Linked DNA regions of Homo sapiens: region 2 is linked to region 1. Evidence: fine-mapped expression QTL. A gene starts in region 1. The other region holds a variant in brackets. All regions are shown on one strand. Distances are between the middles of the regions.

Evidence for each region. PIP is the estimated chance that this variant, and not a neighbour inherited with it, causes the effect.
Region 2: its variant is fine-mapped to the expression of CALCRL in whole blood (TOPMed, PIP above 0.99).

The regions. Positions count from the first base shown.
Region 1 is chr2:187,441,872-187,453,230 of GRCh38, reverse strand. It overlaps CALCRL (calcitonin receptor like receptor), which reads left to right and starts at 4,979. Exons shown (of 15, transcript NM_005795.6): 1 at 4,979-5,192. The region is part of intron 2 of CALCRL-AS1 (CALCRL and TFPI antisense RNA 1); the gene reads right to left.
Region 2 is chr2:187,344,670-187,356,028 of GRCh38, reverse strand. It overlaps CALCRL (calcitonin receptor like receptor), which reads left to right. Exons shown (of 15, transcript NM_005795.6): 13 at 3,697-3,915; 14 at 4,068-4,109; 15 at 9,630-11,359. The coding sequence ends at 9,845. All of the region lies in intron 2 of CALCRL-AS1 (CALCRL and TFPI antisense RNA 1), which reads right to left. Among named protein-coding and RNA genes, the nearest start is that of CALCRL, 98 kb to the left of the region's middle. The variant C/G (reference allele first, on the strand shown) is at 6,382.

The sequences.
Region 1 (11,359 bases):
TGTAAAAAGAAAGATGTGACACTTTCTCAAAGGTGTTAAGGGTTCCTAGGCAAATCCATCATACATTTCAATATATGCATTACATACAGTTCCATAGTCATTAATGTTTAAAGTCTCACTGTATGTTATTGACTAACATTAAATATGAATAAGCTTTTAAAGAAAATAAAAATATAAGTTGCTAATGTTTTTACAAGTTATATAAATATGATGATAGCTGAAGAAAATAGTTCGTTATAACTGGAAAGACATGAATACTATTTGGCATCTTTAGAACTTAATGATTAAATTATTTATGTAAAATATAGGGATTGGTCATTTAATCAAATACTACTTAAGTCGAAATGCCTAAATACAAATATAAATAAACCTTTTATTTTCACAATCAAGATTGATATTTAGCAAATAAGAGGCATTTCAGAATAAATCCACATTAAATGCATATCCAGAATTAAAAAGGGCATCTTTTTTGATGCTAACTAAAACCATCCTAGAAATAGTAAGAACTATTTTAAACTCTTCTGGAAAGAAGATTTGGGTTTCCCAAATAAATTACTCACACACTCTTAGTATTTATGTGCTACTTGTCATTGCTCTATTGATAAGTATGGCTAAGTTCACCATATACTGAATAATATTTTTTTCTTCAAACCAGAGCATTTTTGAGCCTGAAATTATGAATTGGGACTGCCCCAGAAAACTAGGACATATGATCACTCTATTGAAGGTATTTCCCCTCAGAAAGTTCATTGTGTACTCCCATTTAAAGTAAGCATTTATAATTTTGTTGGATTTAAAAATCCATTTGAATTAGTCCATGACATAGCTCACTAGCCAGTACTAGCACTTTATTCTAGCAATAGCCACCCCTCCAACACTCATGAATATCTGTAAGAAAATACTAAGTTCGCAGGAAGATCTAAATCCATCAGGATATAAGAATTTTTAAAATAGGCAAATGTTTGGCCAATTATTTTTTATGTTACTTGGCTTTCTTGAGAAAATACATTATTAAATACTGAAAGAAACTCTACATATAGGCTATAAAATAGTTTTATTTATCTGTATATTAACCTGGTATACATTTCTGTATATCTGACCTGATATATATACTGTTCATTTCAAACATAGTTTTCTGCACCTTCCAAATTCTTATTCATAGTAACTATTTTTAAAATAATATTGTAATCTTCTTTAAAATGATAGCTATGTGCCCAATTAAAGTGAAAAACGGCCCTTTGGTTTTAGTAATAGATAATAGCATATTCACTCTCATGTCCCAGACATTGTACCCAGATTCTTTTACTAAATGCAATTTATTTTTGTTTTGAAAAGCAACTTGAAAAGTGCTAACAGCAATTGCTAGGTAAAATAATAAAAGGTTGGGTCAACTTATTTCCTTGCTAGAAGTAGTTTTTTAATGTAAAGCTTTTAAACATATAAGCTTCTGATGTAAAGTTTATGTGTTTCTCCTCAAATTATTGGTGCATTTATCATAAGGCAAGTTATATATAATATTGCTGACTGCATAAATTATCACCAAGTATAAGTAATTGCTTTCAGACAATTAAGAACACAGAAGAATTATTAACATAAAATAATAACTTTTAAAACTTCAGAATAATTATTTTAAAAGTCTTTCTTTTGACTTGTTCTTGCACTCTCACTAGGGAAAGTCTGTCCTTAATATATTTCCTGTAAAAGTGTTCTGCTTTATTTTGTTTGTTCTTGTGGCAAGAATTATGCTCCAAGGCAGTATCCATACAAATTCAAAATAAGTGGTCAGTTTGGTCAGTAGAAAATTAAATTTGTCAAACCACATTTTGGTCTGGTTTAACTAACATATTCAATATAAACAGTAGCCCAGAAACTTGGAGTTAGCCTACTCCTAATTTTGAGTCAACTTGCATTTGACATAGTAACTAGTATCCCCTATTGGAAGAAAAGGTCGCTTGTGAGCCTTATGTGTGAGCACAAATAAAAGCACAAATCCTGCATGTAGGATGCTAAAATGAAAATGTGTGACTGTCCATCATTACATGTATATATTTCTACACTTATACACCACTCCTCACTTCTACAGAAAACCTTATTGCAGTGCTCTGCATCATTACCTCTAGATTCTATGTTAGCAGCATCAGTTGCTAATTTCACAGAATTTGGCCCTTGACTTCTCATGTGCTAGTCAATCTGTTCATTAAAGGACTAGATAGCAGGGAACATTCTATTTTTACTTATCTCACTAAAACACAGTTAGCACATTACCTAGCTCAAAATACAAATTTGGTCACTACTAATTAAATTATTGCAAGTGGCTTTAATGTCTTCTGAAGAAAGATTATAATATATAAATCCATATAATGCCACGTTGGCTCAAAATTGCTTCATTGATTATTGAAATGTTTTCATTTAGCTCTGCTACAGTTTTCCAAACATTTGCCTTCATGTTTCAGTAGGTATTAGAGAAGTTTTTATGATCTATCTTATCACTTGCTCCTACATAACTTAGAATACCCTGAATGCCTTCCTGGAAGTCCTTGTACCATTTATTTTTTCTGAAGTTTATAAAATGGCAGCTCTTGAGGATTACTAGGATGCAATTTTCCTGTTATGTCTAAATAAGAATTAAAGATGATATTAATAAAATTTATCAAGGAGTCTTCATGGACTACAGCCATGGGCCCATGTGTACGTCAACTTAAATATAAATGATACAACTTCTACTAGACACCCCATAAAGTATAGCACTTGATAGAGAGTAGAAGAGAAAGAGCATTGGATTAAGGGTCTTATGACATGAGCTCAAAACATGAATTTTTTTCCTTCAGTAGACCTTACTAGTATTGGGCAAATGAAATCAATGAATCTCACCAGGCGCAGGGGCTCATGTCTGTAATCCCAGCACTTTGGGAGACCAAGGTGGGCGGGTCACCTTAGGTCAGGAGTTTCAGACCAGTCTGGCCAACATAGTGAAACCCTGTCTCTACAAAAAAATACAAAATGTTAGCTGGGTGTGGTGGCGGGCGCCTGTAATCCCAGCTACTTGGGAGGTTGAGGCAGGAGAATTGCTTGAACCCGGGAGGTGGAGGTTGCAGTGAGCTGAGATTGCGTCATTGCACTCCAGCCTGTGCAACAAGAGCAAAAACTCCATCAAGAAAGAAAGAAGGAAGGAAGGAAGGAAGGAAAGAAAGAAAAATGAATCTTTGGAAAGACGAAAATATCAATGCTTTTATAAACATATTGGGAAAAGTTTTAGTTTTCCATGATTTAATTAAATTCAAAAACTATATATTAATCTCTTTATAGGATTCATATATTACACTTAGCATGGAAGATGAGAAGACATGACCCATTATTACTTTCATATTAAATCTAGTATTTGTTTTTCTCTGAATTTCAAGATGGGAACATGAAGCCTAAAAAGCTTTGTCAAGATCACACCAGACAGTATCAGAACCGGTTCACCAGTGTAACTCAGTTTCTTACAAGTCTTTTCTATTAACCATAATTATAGAGATGAAAGTATATCTATTTTTTATATGTCTGTATTTTGTAATCAATATTGATCTCACTGGTCTTAAAATCAAAGATTGTATAAACATTTTCTTCCACTAATTCAGACAATAAAAATGTCAACATGAGCACCCTGCTTTAAAAACATGATATTCCTGAATTTATTTTGCCTTTACCTCCTTTGTCTGCCTACAAGGTGTATGGCACCTCATTTTATCCTGGAATTGCACTAACAATTTACTAAGAGTTGAATGATCCTCACCGTATCTTATCTATTTCAAAATGTTATGAAATTTGTCGATTCAAAGCCTTAGACATAAAATCTATCTCTTCTAGTTTATAGATGAGAAAATTTATGCCCTGATAAATTAAGTGACTTTTAGTGCTGTTTAGGTTATAGGGATTATAATTATTGCTTCATATCGAACATTTACCAAATTATAAAAATGATAAAAGCATTTTAAATTTACATTTTCCCCTGATCATATCCAATGATGTATTAAACATATTCAGGAAAAACTATGCTTTGAGATGAAATTTTGTCTAAGAAATAAAGTATCCTTTGTATTTATATTATTTTATAATATTATGTTTACAACATCTATATTTTCTTTAAGATTATATTGACTTACAAATATTGTGGTATAAATTATTTTATATTATAAATAACATAATTATACCAAATATTTTTAAATGTGTGCAATAATTTTAAAATTATGAATTATTCAAAAGGCTATTTTGTCAAATATATATACTTATATATTATAAAAGAAACACTCTATACACACACATACACAACCTGAATTTATAACACATACACTCATGTTCTTATGAAGAAGGTAAAGGAAAAAATAAAAGATTTAAAAACTGCAGGATAAAGTTTCTTGATCTAATTAACTGATTAGGAACTGCACTTAGGAACTGATGGAGGAACAGCACCCAATTAGCAGAGCTCCAAATTAAGAAGAGCCAAATCACAAAACCAGTTATGATGAATACAGTTAATTTTTTTTTCTGTGTTGTGCTATGAACACAGATTTGTTAGATTTTTTTTCCTGGATACTTTGTAAGCTATAATTCAACACACACACACACACACACACACACACACACACACACACGCCTAACTCCTTTGATTCTTTGAGCAGAATACTATATTCAGATTTCCTTCAAATCACAAGTAGCTTGTTTGGCAAGTTCTAACAGAACTCAGTCAAGGTGAAAGCCAGCCAGCTTTTTACTGGTAACAATGTATTCACACAGCCTATGATCTCTCTCTGTTCAGGCTGCTTCTTGCTCTTGTCTCACAATAAGAAAGGAGTGCTGCTTTCCTGGGGTATGCTATTTGAGAAAGAAAGTAACCTAACACTAACTGCAGGCGGGGTCAGAGTGATGTAACAGGAAGCTCTGATGTTTCCCTTCTGCTGCTGATCACTTACAATCTGACAACACTTACAATCTACTCAGAACAACCTCTCTCTCTCCAGCAGAGAGTGTCACCTCCTGCTTTAGGACCATCAAGCTCTGCTAACTGAATCTCATCCTAATTGCAGGATCACATTGCAAAGCTTTCACTCTTTCCCACCTTGCTTGTGGGTAAATCTCTTCTGCGGAATCTCAGAAAGTAAAGTTCCATCCTGAGAATATTTCACAAAGAATTTCCTTAAGAGCTGGACTGGGTAAGTGCACATTCAAAATAAATATATTTATTCTAAGTAGTATTCTCATATAGTTTGGCAATGTTTCTATTATAGAATTTAGTAGATAGCACTGAAATAATGTTGAAACATAGTCTCACTTATTTCACATGCTAGAGAAAATACAGCCTACTACCCCAACATGAATACAAAATCTAATACTACTAGATAATATTGTTTACCATGGTATTCTAGAAAATAAATTTAGCAAGTATTAAAAATCTAAATGGATTAAAAGACATATTTCTGAACAAATACCTTAATCACAGAACAATGTCTTTTAAAATTAGCTCTAATATTAGCTAAGCTTGAATCTTGACAACTGGAAAACATTTCTCCCCCCGGAAGGGTCTTTAAACTTTCCATGTTATCAGCTGTAAGAAAGAGGTGAAAGAATAACTACTTAATGGGTCTCGGAGTCTCACTTACTCTGTGGTTGATCATAATGCAGAGTTTTGAAAAGTAATCACTTTGTATTTATTACATTTGCTTTTATTTGCCTTTCACCTTTATTTACACATATATCTGTAACTACTGAACTAATTTTTGTGTTCATTGTTGCCAGATGTGTTTAAATCTCTCTTCTGCTAACCCTGAACTGTTTGCTCTTTATTTGGATCATGGTGTCGGCTACAAAGAAAAAAAAAAACCTAGAGTTTAGGAAATGTAGATTTTTAAAACAATTCTTAATTTTGAAATCTTTAAGAGAATACTTCAACTTGACTGGTTCCCCTCTGCAAGCTTTTGGAGGGGGGTGTGATACCACGATATCTGTGGATAAAGAAACGTGACAGCTTTCCCAAAGAAGTATATTAGACGATTAAACAAAGAAATTAAAGTATTTATTAAAAAAGAATTTCCAGGATGGAACTTACTGAAATGTTGGATAAAACATCTGTTAATGCTCATTCCGATAGTACAGACTGTCCTGAACAATTTAAGAAACTAATGTCTGCTTAATAAATTGTTTGTGTAGATATATCACAAATTTGTTGCTGGAGAAAGTTTGATGTCAAATTTTAAATGATGTTGATAGATATGATTTTTAAGTTATATATTTTCTTACCTAAATGCAATTATACTTTCCAAGATGTCCTGCATTGGAAGCATCCTGTACTTAATCACTTATATCTGGCACATTAATAATAGACTACAAACATCCTGAGTAACTCCTCAGTAATTTACAACTCAATTTTTCCACAAATTCCTCAATATAATGAAAATTTAAATTAATTCTTAGATTTGTGATTCTTTAAGAGTATCATGGCTGATTTCTCTCTCTTTTCAATCTTCAGTTGTACTGAGTTCCCTGACACATGTGTAGAAATGGGAAAAGTGTTTTTAGAATGTGACTTTAGCCATTATATAAATGGGGGAGAAAGTGGAAACAACACATTTACTAACCCAATGACGTGGGTTAGTAACAAAAATTAAAACAACATTATTTTTAATTCAGATTATTTTCTTAGGAGGTATTATATTATGATCATATTTTATAATGAGAAACTCTCCAAACTTCCTTAATTTTTGTTTAATTGCTAGTCCCAAACCCATAATTTTCTTGTATAATTTGATTAAATTTTTATGAGTTTACTAACAGTATGGTTTATAATCTTTGTTTTCCAAAAATACTTTTGAAAAACACTAGGCGATGAACATTGAAGGTCATTAGCCAAAGGAAATATTTGAGGACATAACTGGAAGTTTGAAATAAAAATTCATATTATTGTATTCAAAATGTGCTTTCTTTAATGATAAGAAAATATCAGAATATCAATGCATGCTTTTAGCCATAAAGAAATGAATTTACTTTGCTAGAAGATGTTTCCTTGTAGCATCATAAAATCAATGCATTGAGCCTACAGTCAATGCTAAATATGTAAAATGAAACATAGAATTGAAATAGTATGTGAATAATGTGAGCTGAAATATGTTTTACCTGAAATATTCTATTTCTTAAAGAGATAATGTTTTTGATTATTGTTACAAGATTTTTTTTCTATCTTACATACCAAAGCATTATACTAAAAGTTAAAATATGTAGATTTTTATAATATATGAAACTGTTCATTCACTTTGAAAAATTGGAATAACAAAAACATTGTTTAAAATAATACTGGGTCTGTAATTTTAAAAATTATTTTAAATGAATGGGCAAGATTCATATGGTTTTCTCACTGGTGACTCCGAACATGTAATGAATTTTAAATGAAGACAATACTTAGCATATTTGTAAGAATATTTATGTTCACCTGCACATATTATACTATTTTTTCATGCATAACAGAAATAAAATTTCATAAAAAATTGAAAATAATATAAAGGTAAAATGATTACCTTGTTTGCTTTACAGATTAATGTGGACAAAGTATTTGATAAACACATAAACACTAACTGAATTTCAGTTAATAGCATCATTATATATTTCTAACTAGATCATATTTGGAAACATTGTAAAAATATTTTGCTACCAATTTTATCTACATGGCAAAAGTTTGATAGTAACTTAATTTTAAAAGATTGTTCTAGATCTTTATAGAAAAAATATAATAATCTTTAAAGGATCAAAAACTTATTCACTAAACAAAATTTATTTCATACTCTATATATGACTTTTAATACAGCTTTATCAAATAATTCTGGTTTTGGAGATATAATGATTACAGTATCGACTTTTCACAATACAAATATGTTCAAGAAATAGTATTTAAAATCTTTTGCTTTATTGCGTATCTTATGCTTGGCATTCAGAGAAGCTATTAAACCATAAACACAAGCGCTATCATTGCAAGGGTGTTAATGAAAGACGCTCTTATGAGAGTCAAGTGTGTAACGTATCTTAGTTTTGACTTAATCAGAATATTGGAGAATACGCTTAAGATAGACAAATGGTACACAGCTATTTAAAACATTTATCTGTATCTGGTTTTCAAATCCATGGGTAAACTATAAACATTCATAATTTCTCAGGTATGTTCTATTTTTCTGACAAAGTACATGTACCATACTGGATTACAAATTATTTCAAGACATCTTCTCGTTTAATATACAAAAATATTATGATGCAAATAGGTGGAAAATAAAAACTTACCAGAAATACAAGTCTACATTCTAACCAGATGGATCTATCCTTTTCCCATATATTCACATGGACCATGTAAATTAGATTAGGTCAATTAATCTCTGCATTTTTCCTTATTTGAATAATCTTAAAATCAAATTAATTTAATTATAATAAGCTATATTACAAAAAAGAGAAGAAATGTATTCAATTTTTAAGGACATAATAAGGTCTTACTTCTTCTTACAAAAATATAAAATAGTATCACTGCCTGTGAACTGAGTTAGGGTCTATGTTTCCTAGGTTACTAGAATTATTATCAGGTAATAAGTTGCAAATATTTTCCTAAAACACATTTCTTCCATTTTTTTCTTCAATTAGTTTGTTTACTTAAGAGACAGTATTATTCAAAACTAATACACCAAAATATTATTGTTTGCAAAAATGGCCCAAATAGTGTATTTACTTTTGAAATGTTAAGCAAGTTTTATTTTTTAATGTTTTCATGGTTTAAATTAAATGTGTTATACACCTTTTCCATTACTAAAAATTAAAAAGACAAAAATCCCAACCCAGTTCAATCTAGCATAAGCCAAAATGAATACATAAATAACCCCTATGGTATTGGGGCTATAGTTTTATATTTTATTAACACTGCTGGATGGAGCCCAATTTTCAGACAAATCTTATTTCCCTTAACATGGAACATATCTTTTTGAATTAAAAAGTGTTAATATGACATAAACTTTTGTATAAAACTGTAGTTATTTCTCTATTCAGGCTTAGGCTAACCTAAGCTCATTTATGTTTCTCATGAAATTATGGTGAATTTTGAGCATATCATTTGGTATGTTAAATTGCAATGATTTACTTACATAGCAACTAGATGGTTTATAAGTGCCCATCTCCTTACAGTGCAGTCACATGGAGGATCAATAGCATATTCGTGAGCACACAGGTTTGGTTTTATTAACCAAAATGAAGATAAATTTTTCTTGTATCCAACTACCAAATTCATAAATTTTACAAATGAGTGTTAATTTGAACCCGCATTCACTAATTAAACTGAGACCAATGATTACACAGATATTTTGCATATGCACCTCAATTTTGCCTTTCTTCCAAGGATAATTTGAAGGAAAAATAGAAACTTTGGTAAGTATCAGAGAGCAATAAATAACATTATAATAGACAAAGAGAGTTAAAACCATGGGAAAAGAATGTCATCAATACAAAACTGTGATTTTTATTTTGTACTTAGTAATGGAAACAATATTAGAGTAACATGTTTATTGTTTTATTAGTCAATGTGCATATGTCTTTAAAATTTTACTTTTAATGATGTATTTGTTTCTGTCTTTTCTACAAATATACCAATGTACTTTATAAATTAAGAAAAAATATGCATTTATTTTAGAAATTTAGGTATATGGTATTTATAGAAGTACACTGTGATGCGCTTTGGATTTAGATCATCCACATAAGAACCCAAAATTTACCACTTATTAGTTCCCCTTTCTCATCCATAAAGTGGAAGTGATAATCATATTGCTTTATAAGGTTTTGTAAGTAATCCATGAATTAACACGTGGAAATTTTTTAGCACTTGGCATTTAGTACATATTCAATAAATTTTCATGTTCACCTTAAGTCTGTTGTGAATGAGACTGAGGACATAATTTGTTTCTATGCAAAATTTTATTCCAAACAATCAACACCCATACGGATAAACAGAATGCAATCTATCTGTAAGACAGGAAGAGTGAACAAGTGTGATTTATAATTACAGTTGTTACAGTGACCATCCTTTTGCCATTATACAATACATGCCAGAACCTAATAAAATTGATATTGATAATTACTATCTCCATAGAACTTGAGCACTTTAAAATACCTGCATATTAACAATTTAAAAAGGTATATTAAACAAAAATTATTGCGTTTCTTTACATGTGAAACTCAGTGAAACCCAAAGTTGCACAATCCTCGTTGACAAAACTCTGGTTTTATCCTACATATATTATGAATCTACATCCTAAATATTTCATTATACTATTGTGTATTATCTATTATTAGACCTCTCATTACTGAAGTTGTGCAAAGTTGAATAGTGATATGATTCACCAAATCCAAACTGAATCTCTTCTAACACAAGATAATAAAAGTAAATTTATTTACACAAATTTGTTTGCTACTTGTGTGACTATACTACAGTAGAGATAAATGTAGACATCTGTCGGAAAATTTTAGTTTTGATTACTATAGCAGCTCCACAATCTCAAAATGAGAACATTAAGAAGGATCCAATAAATTCAGCTTTTAGGATTCCAAGTTGTTTTTGACCATTTTTTTTAAAGTTCTTATTATAGGAACTTATTACTGCCACCTAATGGAAGACACTTATATTTTCTTATTTATTATATTTCAAAAATACAAAGAAAGAGTGCCTGTGCAATAGGATGGCAAAAAAAATTTAGGTTTTGGCTTAACATAATTCATTTTAAGAATTTATCATTGAATATTTTATAAATTAAGACCCACATTGAGAATGTAATGAAACCAAAACCTTTTTTTCCATAAATTAAAAAAAAATACATTCAAAGGGATTCTCATTTTGCTTACAGTTGCATGAGTTTCATAGGATCTCCTTTTTGTTAGCTATGTTAAGAGTTCTTCAACTCTCAGTTTAAACACCCATGTTGCAGGTAATTCACGTGACAGTTACTCTTATAAAATAAGGTAAAATATATATATACGTATATGTATACATATATACACACATATATGTGTGCGTATATATGTGTGTGTATGTATGTGTGTGTGTATGTATGTATATGTATATGTGTGTGTATGTATATATATATATATATATATATATATATATATATAATGTTTTTAAGCCACCTCAGATACTTTTATAGATCAAGGAGTAAGGAACAGAATTCAAAAGACAGACATGGACATCAGAAACAAATGGCCAAGAGTTTTCCCAGCAGACAGACAGCATGAGTTGCAGGGCGTTAGGAAAAACTATACAGTAAGTACAATCTGCAGTTGGTAATTTTCCATCTGTCTTTTGGTATCCCTC
Region 2 (11,359 bases), 97 kb after region 1:
TGGAATGTTTTTTCATTTGTTTGTGTCCTCTCCTATTTCCTTGAGCAGTGGTTTGTAGTTCTCCTTGAAGAGGTCCTTCACTTCCCTTGGAAGTTGTATTCCTAGATATTTTATTCTCTTTGTAGCATTTGTGATTGAGAGTTGACTCATGATTTAGCTCTCTGTTTGTCTATTATTGTTGTATAGGAATGCTTGTGATTTTTGCACATTGATTTTGTATCCTGAGACTTTGCTAAAGTTGCTTATCAGCTTAAGGAGTTTTTTGGCTGAGTCGATGGGGTTTTCTAAATATACAGTTATGTCATCTGCAAACAGACAATTTGACTTCCTCTCCTCCTATTCAAATACCCTTTATTTACAGCTGCGATCAAGTTATTTATATATGTGCTTGTGTATGTATGTGATATTTTTCATGTAAAATTCAAAGCTTCCTCATTCGTCTCTTCAGACTCTTTTTAAATACAGATATTCTATTATTTAACTATATTTGCTAGCTGCAGTTTAGTATATGGTTGCGTTGGATCACTGTTCAAACCATTCTCAAAATGTATCATTGTTAAGCCATTCTTATAGAATTTATTATGACTTTCATAACATTTTTTGATATACCTTAATGTAGATTATAGTGAAAATTTCAAAGGCAGAGGCACTTGCCTCCCTTCCTTCTCCTACATTCTAAGGGCATGAGTGACATACTGTGTTTAAGTTGTACCCTGAGACTGCCTGGCTTTGCATTGTGTGCATAAAAGAGTCAGCACTGAATCCTGGCTCTACCACAGCTGCCTGTGTATCATCTCAGAGCAAGTTTTCTGTTTTATTTTGTTTTTAACCTCTCTGTGTCTTTGTTTTCTCATCTGTAATGATGGAATAATAAGAATATATACCTCACAGGGTATTATAAGGATTAAATGAGATGCTTTCTGTTAAGTGATCTGGCACAGTTAGTGCATAGAATATTATAAATTCTTGAAAAAATGCCTTCCAAGTTTCCTCACTTGTAGTTTCTGCATGATACCATGCTTCTACTCTGAGGAGAGCTTGAAGAAATTATAATATATCGTTTGGGCTACCCAGGAGATTCCAGAACAAATGCAAGACAATATTTTATTACAAAAGATCTGGCTGCACAGAGGGGTACATGATTCAGACTTCTAAATCAGTAAGGTTCAGGAAGTGAAAGCACCTAGCAAATGCAAAATGTAACGTCATCTACACTATCCTTGGAAACATCTGTTCATGTAAACTTTAAGGAAGAAGAGTAAGGATGAAATACAGGAATATAGCCCATCAAGCTGGTCAGTAAGAAAAGAAGCGAAAATCCACATTATTTGCCTAAAACTTTCCCATCTTGTTGGCCTAAAACAAGATTAGGAACCTATTTTTCTGTCCGGATAAATCATTCTGTCCTTGTTTAAGCTCCAGAGCTCCTTCTTGGTCCTGGCCAATTCCAAGCTCCTCAGAAGAGCCCTAGTAATTGTTCTCATGGTTATCATATGTTTTTGCACAATTTTTATAAATAAGATATTTTAATCACAAGTCATTCCACTCAGACTTCCTCCATCACATTTCCATGTGAGCAGGGTGGTACTGGAGTGACTACAGCATTTTTGAGATCCTGTTGAGGGGAAGTTGAGAGATGATACATTTAATTTGGGTTCAGTGACAGATATTTAGGTGACTTCAGTGCATAGTTAAGTGATTGTCTGGGAATGACTTCCAGAAACTGTCCTACAGCCACTGTATAGATTTACCCCAGTTCCTGTCATGACCCAAGCGTGGTACTGTGATATCAAAATAGCCTGATGGGCCTACTAGCTATGTAAACTTTATGAGTATGTCAGTTAAAGGTTTCTTCTTTTCTACTGAACTAGTTTTGCTCAAGGGTGGGTGAAATTCAGACATAGTTCTTCTAAAATTTAAAATTCTTCTTTTATTTTTGCTTATAGTAAATGGAAATATTTACAGAAAATAAAGTAAGATGAAGGGATTATAATTCTCAAAACTATGTTGTGTGGAAAAATAGCATCCAATTCATTCTAAGACAATTATTTATAAAATAGCTAATAGAATAAACTCTATTGTCAACTCTAGTTTCTAGTTTCACATTTTAAATCAGACTTCCCATGTGGAGAAGCACTTTGCATTTAAAAATTTTCATATAATTGGGATCATCTAAATTGCAATGTTTCTACTGTCTTTTTATAGTTTATGATTTAATGTATTAAGATTATAAAATATTTGATATTAAGCAGATAAAAGAGCATTATTATCTTTTTTTAAAGAGCAATGGATGCTTAAGAAGGGAATATATTAGGATGAGTGGAATAACAGCTGACATGTTGATTTGTCACATTTCATTCTCACACCTGTTGAAATGGCTTATTCTGCTTTTGCCTTTATCGTATTTCTGTGTCTGCAAACATTGCTTTTCATAGATGTGTTTCCATTAGGATTTTAGTGAGCTGTATATTTTTGAAGCATATGTTCTATTAAATTTTCTAAAAATAGTGGTAGAATATTTTTGTGCCCAGTTATTTTTATGACACATGTGTCCATTTAGCAAATGCAGGCTCTCTGTTAATTCTTTTCTATAATAAATGGGAAACTACTATTTTTTGCAATTTTTAAACTGTGTGGATATAAATTATATTTGGTGCATAGATTGAAAATTTAAGATTATTAAACAAAGGGCAGATGCCAGAACTAAGGGTGAGGAAAAAGAAAAGAGAATAGCAATTAGCCCCTATGGAGCTCTTCTGGAATTAATATTCATGATTCTATGGAAGGCATAAGGAATGGGCATAGAGAAAATGGACCAAAGTAAAAGATATTGACTGGGTGAAAATAAGAAAGAGATAAACTCTAACTTGGGTGAAAATAAGAGAAAGATAAACTTGTATTATGCGAGAGAAAGAGAAATAAATATGTTTCAGTAGGACCCTGTTTGCTGAGTCACATTAGAGTGTCAAAGGTTTATGTCTCCCATCCAAAGAAACTACTGTCTCTTCGAGAAAGTTGTTGAGGCACAAAAATAGTGAATATTATGTCATTGCAGACAGTAATTAACAGGAAGTCTTATAGAATGTCAAATTATTTTAGCTCTAGAATGACTGGGGTTGAATATCAGCTGGTTCAAAGTTCCCTCATAAGTAAAAGAGGATTACAGTGATACTTTGGAGAGGTGTTGTAAAGATTATTGTTACTAGAAGAAACAGGAAAGTTTTTGGTTTGAAAGATGAAAATGGTTATTATGGTATAATATACATTTAGAAAGTATGTCATATGGACATGATAAAGAGGGGATGCTTTAAAAATTAGCATTTTTCCATAAACAATTATTTTCTTTGATATGAAAATGTTCAAAATCTTTAGTTTTTAGACCACAGATTTTTTTAATTGCACGTGAAAATGAGCTGAGAAAAACTGAAATATTCTTCAACTGAATATGTTCCACAGTAATTATACCATAATTTAATTTTACTTTTTTAAAACTTGTTTATTAAAATTGATGTACTTGTTAAATTGATAAATCACAATTCCAGAAATATAAATTAATGCCTTAGGCAATAATACCCTTTAAAAATATTCTTGTACATTAAAAATATTTTAAGATTTATAAAATTGGAGATACTTGAATAATGCTTCTTAATATTAAATATGAAATGATTTTCAGATGCCATTTAATTTCGTTTTTAGGTGAATCTTTTTTTCTTGTTAAATATTGTACGCGTTCTCATCACCAAGTTAAAAGTTACACACCAAGCGGAATCCAATCTGTACATGAAAGCTGTGAGAGCTACTCTTATCTTGGTGCCATTGCTTGGCATTGAATTTGTGCTGATTCCATGGCGACCTGAAGGAAAGATTGCAGAGGAGGTATATGACTACATCATGCACATCCTTATGCACTTCCAGGTATGGCATTCTTGATAAGAAGGCAGCTTGAGAAGTTTGGAATTAAATATACATATAGCTTTGGTTTACTCCTGACTACTTGTACAGCTATTTGATTACAAATACATGTATCTTTCCATTTGGATTCAGATCATTCTATTTTTCTTTTACAGGGTCTTTTGGTCTCTACCATTTTCTGCTTCTTTAATGGAGAGGTATGATAATTGATTTTATTCCTTCTATTATTTTATATTTGCTATCTGTCTATCTATCCATGTATTTAAATGAGATAAAATTATAAATTCCCCAGGAACAACCATGTTAAATTCTGTTTCCATCAGGGAAAGAACCATAGAATCTCTTACCATAGGTTTAACTCTCCTTCTCAAATGCTCAGGTCATATTGGAGTTCAAAGCCAGGGAAAAGTCAACCTCACTTAAAAATATTTCAAATGCTATTCATCTAATCTTTTGAGATACCTTTGAGTCCCATTAAGTCTGAGCTTTTCCCCAGATACAGTGCCAGGCAATCCCAAATCTCATAGAACATACACTCTAATAGGAAATAAGAAATAGGATCATCTCATTTTCCCTCTTTCTCTTTTTTGCCTGTCTTACAATGTAGCCTATGGAAACAACTTTATGGCAAATACGAAAGGATTTTAAAAATTAAACTCTTGGTTATACAGGGAAGAAATTCAATGGGTTAGGAAATTTAGAAGAGAATGCTCTAATTCATAACATGACCATGTACTCTTCAGTACTTCTAGATTTTTATCCATGCGTTTCCTACTTGGGAAGTTTCAGGCATTTTGAAAGCTGGTAACATATTTCTTTTTTTTTTTTTTTTGAGACGGAGTCCCGCTGTTTAGCCCAGGCCGGATTGCAGTGGCGCAATCTCGGCTCACTGCAAGCTCCGCCTCCCAGGTTCACGCCATTCTCCTGCCTCAGCCTCCCGAGTAGCTGGGACTACAGGCGCCCGCCACCGCGCCCGGCTAATTTTTTGTATTTTTAGTAGAGACGGGGTTTCACCGTGTTAGCCAAGATGGTCTCGATCTCCTGACCTTGTGATCCGCCCGCCTCGGCCTCCCAAAGTGCTGGGATTACAGGCGTGAGCCACCGCGCCCAGCCAACATATTTCTTATGCATACAAATGTGTTATAGCTCAGTAATCTGAGCTCTATTGACTTAGCTCTTTATATGTTTTTAATCTGCTCGACACAATTTAACCTGTAGGAGGATTTTGGCAAAATTGAACAAAGTTTAGAAATCCAGACAGCAGCTGAGTGAGACACAGACACTTGATAATGTGAAGCTTATCATAAAGCTTCAGATGGGGAACACATGGGACCAGTTGGTATAACCTATGACAACCATTCCTATAAAACAAATGAACATTGGAAATCATGCACACATCATGAAAAACTATAACATGTTATTTGCGCTTGCTTAAGTAATATTTTTACTTCCTCATCTTGACATATAATAAAACTCAATGTTTAGTTTTTAATTAAAATATATCTCAAGTTCAACACGTATTTATTTATATTATTATTATTTATCTATATTTATTTATTTGTAATGAGGTGTAGAGTTGCCACACATTGTAGACTATATTTCATACATTTAAGTGGTACTTCCATAATTCTTCTGCTATACAGAAGACAAGAGCAACTTTTTCTGAAATCAGAGAAGCATAGACAGAATGCAGTTACAAAAAATAGATAAATCATTTGTTTGATAGTAAAATTCAAATAGATTTTATTATATACCTCTATAAATTTAATGTTATATACACTGAATTAGACAACCCTAAATGCTACTTGTATAGGATGTAATAATTAAATATAGATGAGAGTGATATGGACAACATGCTAAAGAACATGCATGAAATAGGAAAGGTAGACCTCTGTATCTACAGAAACAGATTTTAATTCCATGAACTAATTTTTAAATATTCAAAACACACTCACTAGTAAAATATTTTGTAACAGGAGGCAGTGTAGAATAAACACAGCAATGCATTTAATCACCAAAGATGCTACTTTTCATCTTGGCTGTGATATTTTGGCAAATGCTGGCAAATTTCAGGAGCCTGTGTCTATCTTTCTTAAAGGGAAATTAAAGCAAGTTCTCTACACAGGTCTCAGAAAAATAAATACAAGCTAAGAAAGATAAAGTTTTTAGCACCATGCCCCACTTCATGAGATTCTCAGTATACTTATTATTTGATTTGTCAAATCACTTATTTTCAAAAACACATGTGCCAACAGGAACATTAATCATTTTGGATCAAAATCCCAAATTGGCTCTTTTATTTAGAAAGAGTGCCCAGGGAATATCTAAAGTAATGCCTAACACTCCTGTTACACTCGATCTGTGTAAACAAAAGGGACACAGAACCTTGATCTTCTGCCATGTCCTAAAATTGAGAAAATTTTGACATTGGAAAATTACAATAATACACAATGTTTGAGCTAGGTTGTT[C/G]CCAAATCTTTCAGTTCCTCACAACATTTCTAATATCTGTTCCTTTTCTTCATCTCTGGAGATACAATCCCTGTTTCAGTATGATTCATTTCTCTTCTTAAGAAATACTGTGATCCCTCCCTTTTTGTCTCAATGCCTCTTACTTTTTCCCACTCTCATAACATGAAGAAACAACTGCCAAATTCATTTTGTTCCAACTATGTCATGTACTTCTTAAAATCATTTGCTCAGGCTTAGTTTCCTTCTTGTTTTCCACATTAGGTCAAATGCCTGCCTTTAGCTTAATATTTGTGTTTTTTTCTTTCCCACCTTTTATGCACTTTTTAGCTAACGTCTTGCTATTAGCATTTCTCACTAGTTAAATAAATGTGGCTTGACAAGTGCTTGGATTACTTTCATTTTATCCCTAGTGCCCTCAGACAAAAATGTGCACTGTGATCATAAACTAGGGACTCTAGTCATCAGAAGGTTATATTTAACAACACCTGAGGGTAGATATTCCATAAGATGAGCAAAAAGTTTTGTTGAGGACAGACAATTAAACCCAAATTCTTTCATGAGAACTACGTAGAATTTTTATAAAAGTTTCGTAAATATTTTAAATTGATTCCCATTAAGGAGTATAAAGTTAGTTCCTTATTGGGTGTTAATGGGTATATAAAGTTGTAATGTTACATTCTAAACATTTGCCTTACTACTTATACATGGTCATGCATAAAACAATAAAAACATTCATATCTTTAATAACACCCAGCTATCTTCCCTTACAATGGAAATTTGCTCCTACTGATTTTTTCTCATTAAAAGTTTATTAAGAGTAGCTGCTTTAATGTCGTATTTAACAGGTGTGATATTGTATTAGAGGAAGCAGAAGAAAAATGTAACATCCTTAGAGCAAATAACATAAACAAACAAGTCTACAAGGCCTGTGGATCTTTAATTAGGTTTATTTTTAACTATAGTAAGACCTCACAGTTCATGAAATTGGCTTTCTATGGTTTTTCTGATGATTTAGTTGCAAGGAAGAAATAGAGTGATGACCTTAATCAAAGTAGATATTTTAAGAGCAAACAGTCATATATTTCAATAGCCATTTTCCTTCCAAATTGAATTTAAGCTTTCCTTTTTAAGACTATAAGTACTAGACTCACAGCTAAGATATTACTTCCTCTCAGCTTTTTCTCATACTTTATATAGAATTTTTTATACAAAGCTATATGCCACTTCCCCTCAACCAGAAACTATATTGATTACATACTCAACCAATTCAGCATTTAGTAACAAAATTAGGAGAAGTTTATGAAACAAAAAATAAGGATCAAAAATATTTCTCATCAGATGTATCTAGATAATTGGTCAATGGTCATTTTTATTTTGAATCTCTGAATATGTATTTAAAATTCACAATCTGAAGCCATTCAATTTGTAGTTTGCTCATGATCTTGAGGTTGTTACATATGCAGATGTTATTTTTAAATTATCTGAATTTAGATATTTTATACGGAGGATTTAGAATTATATTACTAAATTGAGAGGAAAGTTTAATTTTTGCAAGATAAATAAATTTGTTGCCTTATAAATGCTTTTATTTTCAAAGCATATTTACATGAATATAAATTGTTTTCTTCAGATATGGTTACCATATATTTTTTAAATTGAGCTTGAAAGGGCTGAAGTTACTGAACTTCATCATAATGTAACTTTCAATACGAAGTTATTTCATTTTAATTATATAATTTTTGAACTATATAGTAGAGTGAAATTAACTGATAATTTTAATACCTCATTTAATTTTACCTAAACACATTGTTGGCTTTATATTTGCTCCTTCTTTTTTCCTACATGAAATGAGACAATAAAACTTTGAGTTTATTTTAAGTGACAGACTATAAGATACTTTAACAGGAACTCTGAAGTATCCTGTAAAGCTGCAGACATCCTGGAACACCTATTTTCTATAGAATGTTTGTAATTGGAGGAATTGAGGTTTTGTGTGTGTGTGTATGTGTGTGTGTGTGTGTTTTAATCCATTAGACTAGGAAATAACAAGAGAGAAGTAAGCCCTTTTTAAAGATTTAATATTGATTTGTATACATGGATATAGTGAAGAGAAAGTTGAGGAATTCTATATAAGTAGTAGAAAGTTAAACAATTATACCTCAGTACGTAGAAAATGAATTACCAGAAAATTGCTGTGAGATGCTCAGATTCCCTTTGGAAAAGCACTGAAAGAGCCAAAGAGCAATAGAGAGCTTGGGGAAGACCATTCAAAGCAAACCCACTCTGGGCAGATATAGATCGGGTCACAAGGATTTGGCTAACACATTCATAACCTAAAAGCAGGCTGCTCCAAGCCAGTGTGCTCACTCATCAGACATGGAAAAGTCCTCAACGTACTTGAGCTAGAGATGTATTTAAATGTTCTCATTTGTGCCCATTGACTGACAATGAAGAAAATTCACTCTTGTGCCTTACATTCCATTATGACCAATATTTTACTGTATAGGACCCACCTACCCCTGATCTCTAGCTTCAAACAGAGGGGAAGGAAGTCATTAAACTGCAAATTTATTCAGCAGAAGAGGATTCAAATATATAAAAATGGAGTGGTTACATTCCTAAATTTATTTTTCACAATATTCACCAGATTTATAATTATTTGTTCAACACTTTTCTTTCCTCTATGTAGTAAGCTCCATGAAGACAAATATCATGCTCCCTTTTTTAGAATGTAGCACAATTTCTGGCATATGGGAGTCACTCAGAAACAAAGGTTGCTGCTACTGCCCTGCTGCTGCTGCTGCTGATTTGTATTCTTCGTATCCTAACTTCTTTTCTTTTGTGTATCTTTCGCTTATCCTGTCACGAATTGTCTTCTCATTCTATTAATAAAGACATTAATATAAAACTCAATGTTGCACATGAAATCTTGTAAATGGGGGTCCAGATTACCTATTTGTTTGGCAACAATAAATACATATGAATTATAAAAGCTTTGAAGACAAAACATGCCATGAAAAATATTAATGGAATGTAAAGTACAATGTAATTGTAATACATTTCCTAATGTGAAGATGGTACACTTAATTTTTTAAATTAAGAAAATGAAGCTATATTATTCACTGATTAACATAACTTTTTTTAAAAAAGCTCTTCTCCAAGACCTATTTAATTGTGCTTCAAAAACAGTGTCTTCATTTCAATTAATGGGTTGTTCTTGTTCTTTCTGTTTTCCTTTTGATTGATAGGTTCAAGCAATTCTGAGAAGAAACTGGAATCAATACAAAATCCAATTTGGAAACAGCTTTTCCAACTCAGAAGCTCTTCGTAGTGCGTCTTACACAGTGTCAACAATCAGTGATGGTCCAGGTTATAGTCATGACTGTCCTAGTGAACACTTAAATGGAAAAAGCATCCATGATATTGAAAATGTTCTCTTAAAACCAGAAAATTTATATAATTGAAAATAGAAGGATGGTTGTCTCACTGTTTTGTGCTTCTCCTAACTCAAGGACTTGGACCCATGACTCTGTAGCCAGAAGACTTCAATATTAAATGACTTTTTGAATGTCATAAAGAAGAGCCTTCACATGAAATTAGTAGTGTGTTGATAAGAGTGTAACATCCAGCTCTATGTGGGAAAAAAGAAATCCTGGTTTGTAATGTTTGTCAGTAAATACTCCCACTATGCCTGATGTGACGCTACTAACCTGACATCACCAAGTGTGGAATTGGAGAAAAGCACAATCAACTTTTCTGAGCTGGTGTAAGCCAGTTCCAGCACACCATTGCATGAATTCACAAACAAATGGCTGTAAAACTAAACATACATGTTGGGCATGATTCTACCCTTATTGCCCCAAGAGACCTAGCTAAGGTCTATAAACATGAAGGGAAAATTAGCTTTTAGTTTTAAAACTCTTTATCCCATCTTGATTGGGGCAGTTGACTTTTTTTTTGCCCAGAGTGCCGTAGTCCTTTTTGTAACTACCCTCTCAAATGGACAATACCAGAAGTGAATTATCCCTGCTGGCTTTCTTTTCTCTATGAAAAGCAACTGAGTACAATTGTTATGATCTACTCATTTGCTGACACATCAGTTATATCTTGTGGCATATCCATTGTGGAAACTGGATGAACAGGATGTATAATATGCAATCCTACTTCTATATCATTAGGAAAACATCTTAGTTGATGCTACAAAACACCTTGTCAACCTCTTCCTGTCTTACCAAACAGTGGGAGGGAATTCCTAGCTGTAAATATAAATTTTGTCCCTTCCATTTCTACTGTATAAACAAATTAGCAATCATTTTATATAAAGAAAATCAATGAAGGATTTCTTATTTTCTTGGAATTTTGTAAAAAGAAATTGTGAAAAATGAGCTTGTAAATACTCCATTATTTTATTTTATAGTCTCAAATCAAATACATACAACCTATGTAATTTTTAAAGCAAATATATAATGCAACAATGTGTGTATGTTAATATCTGATACTGTATCTGGGCTGATTTTTTAAATAAAATAGAGTCTGGAATGCTATATTTGGTAAATATTTTAAAGACAACCAGATGCCAGCATCAGAAGTCTGTTTGAGAACTAAGAGAACAGAAACATCTATCATAAGATATATTTATTTTAAAAACACAAGGTCACTATTTTATTGAATATATTTGTTTTGATAACTCATACCTTAATAATAGGTGTGTTTGACATATTTCTTTTTTCATTTTGACAATGAACTCACATTCTAATCCAGAAATTTTAAACAACTACTGTGATAAATACCAATCTGCTACTTTTATAGATTTTACCCCATTAAAATATTACTTTACTGACTTTTACTATGTGAAGATATATAGCTTTGGAAATGTCCCAGGCTATTCAAGAAATATAAAAAACTAGAAGGATACTATATATACCATATACAATGCTTTAATATTTTAATAGAGCTACTGTATATAATACAAATTAGG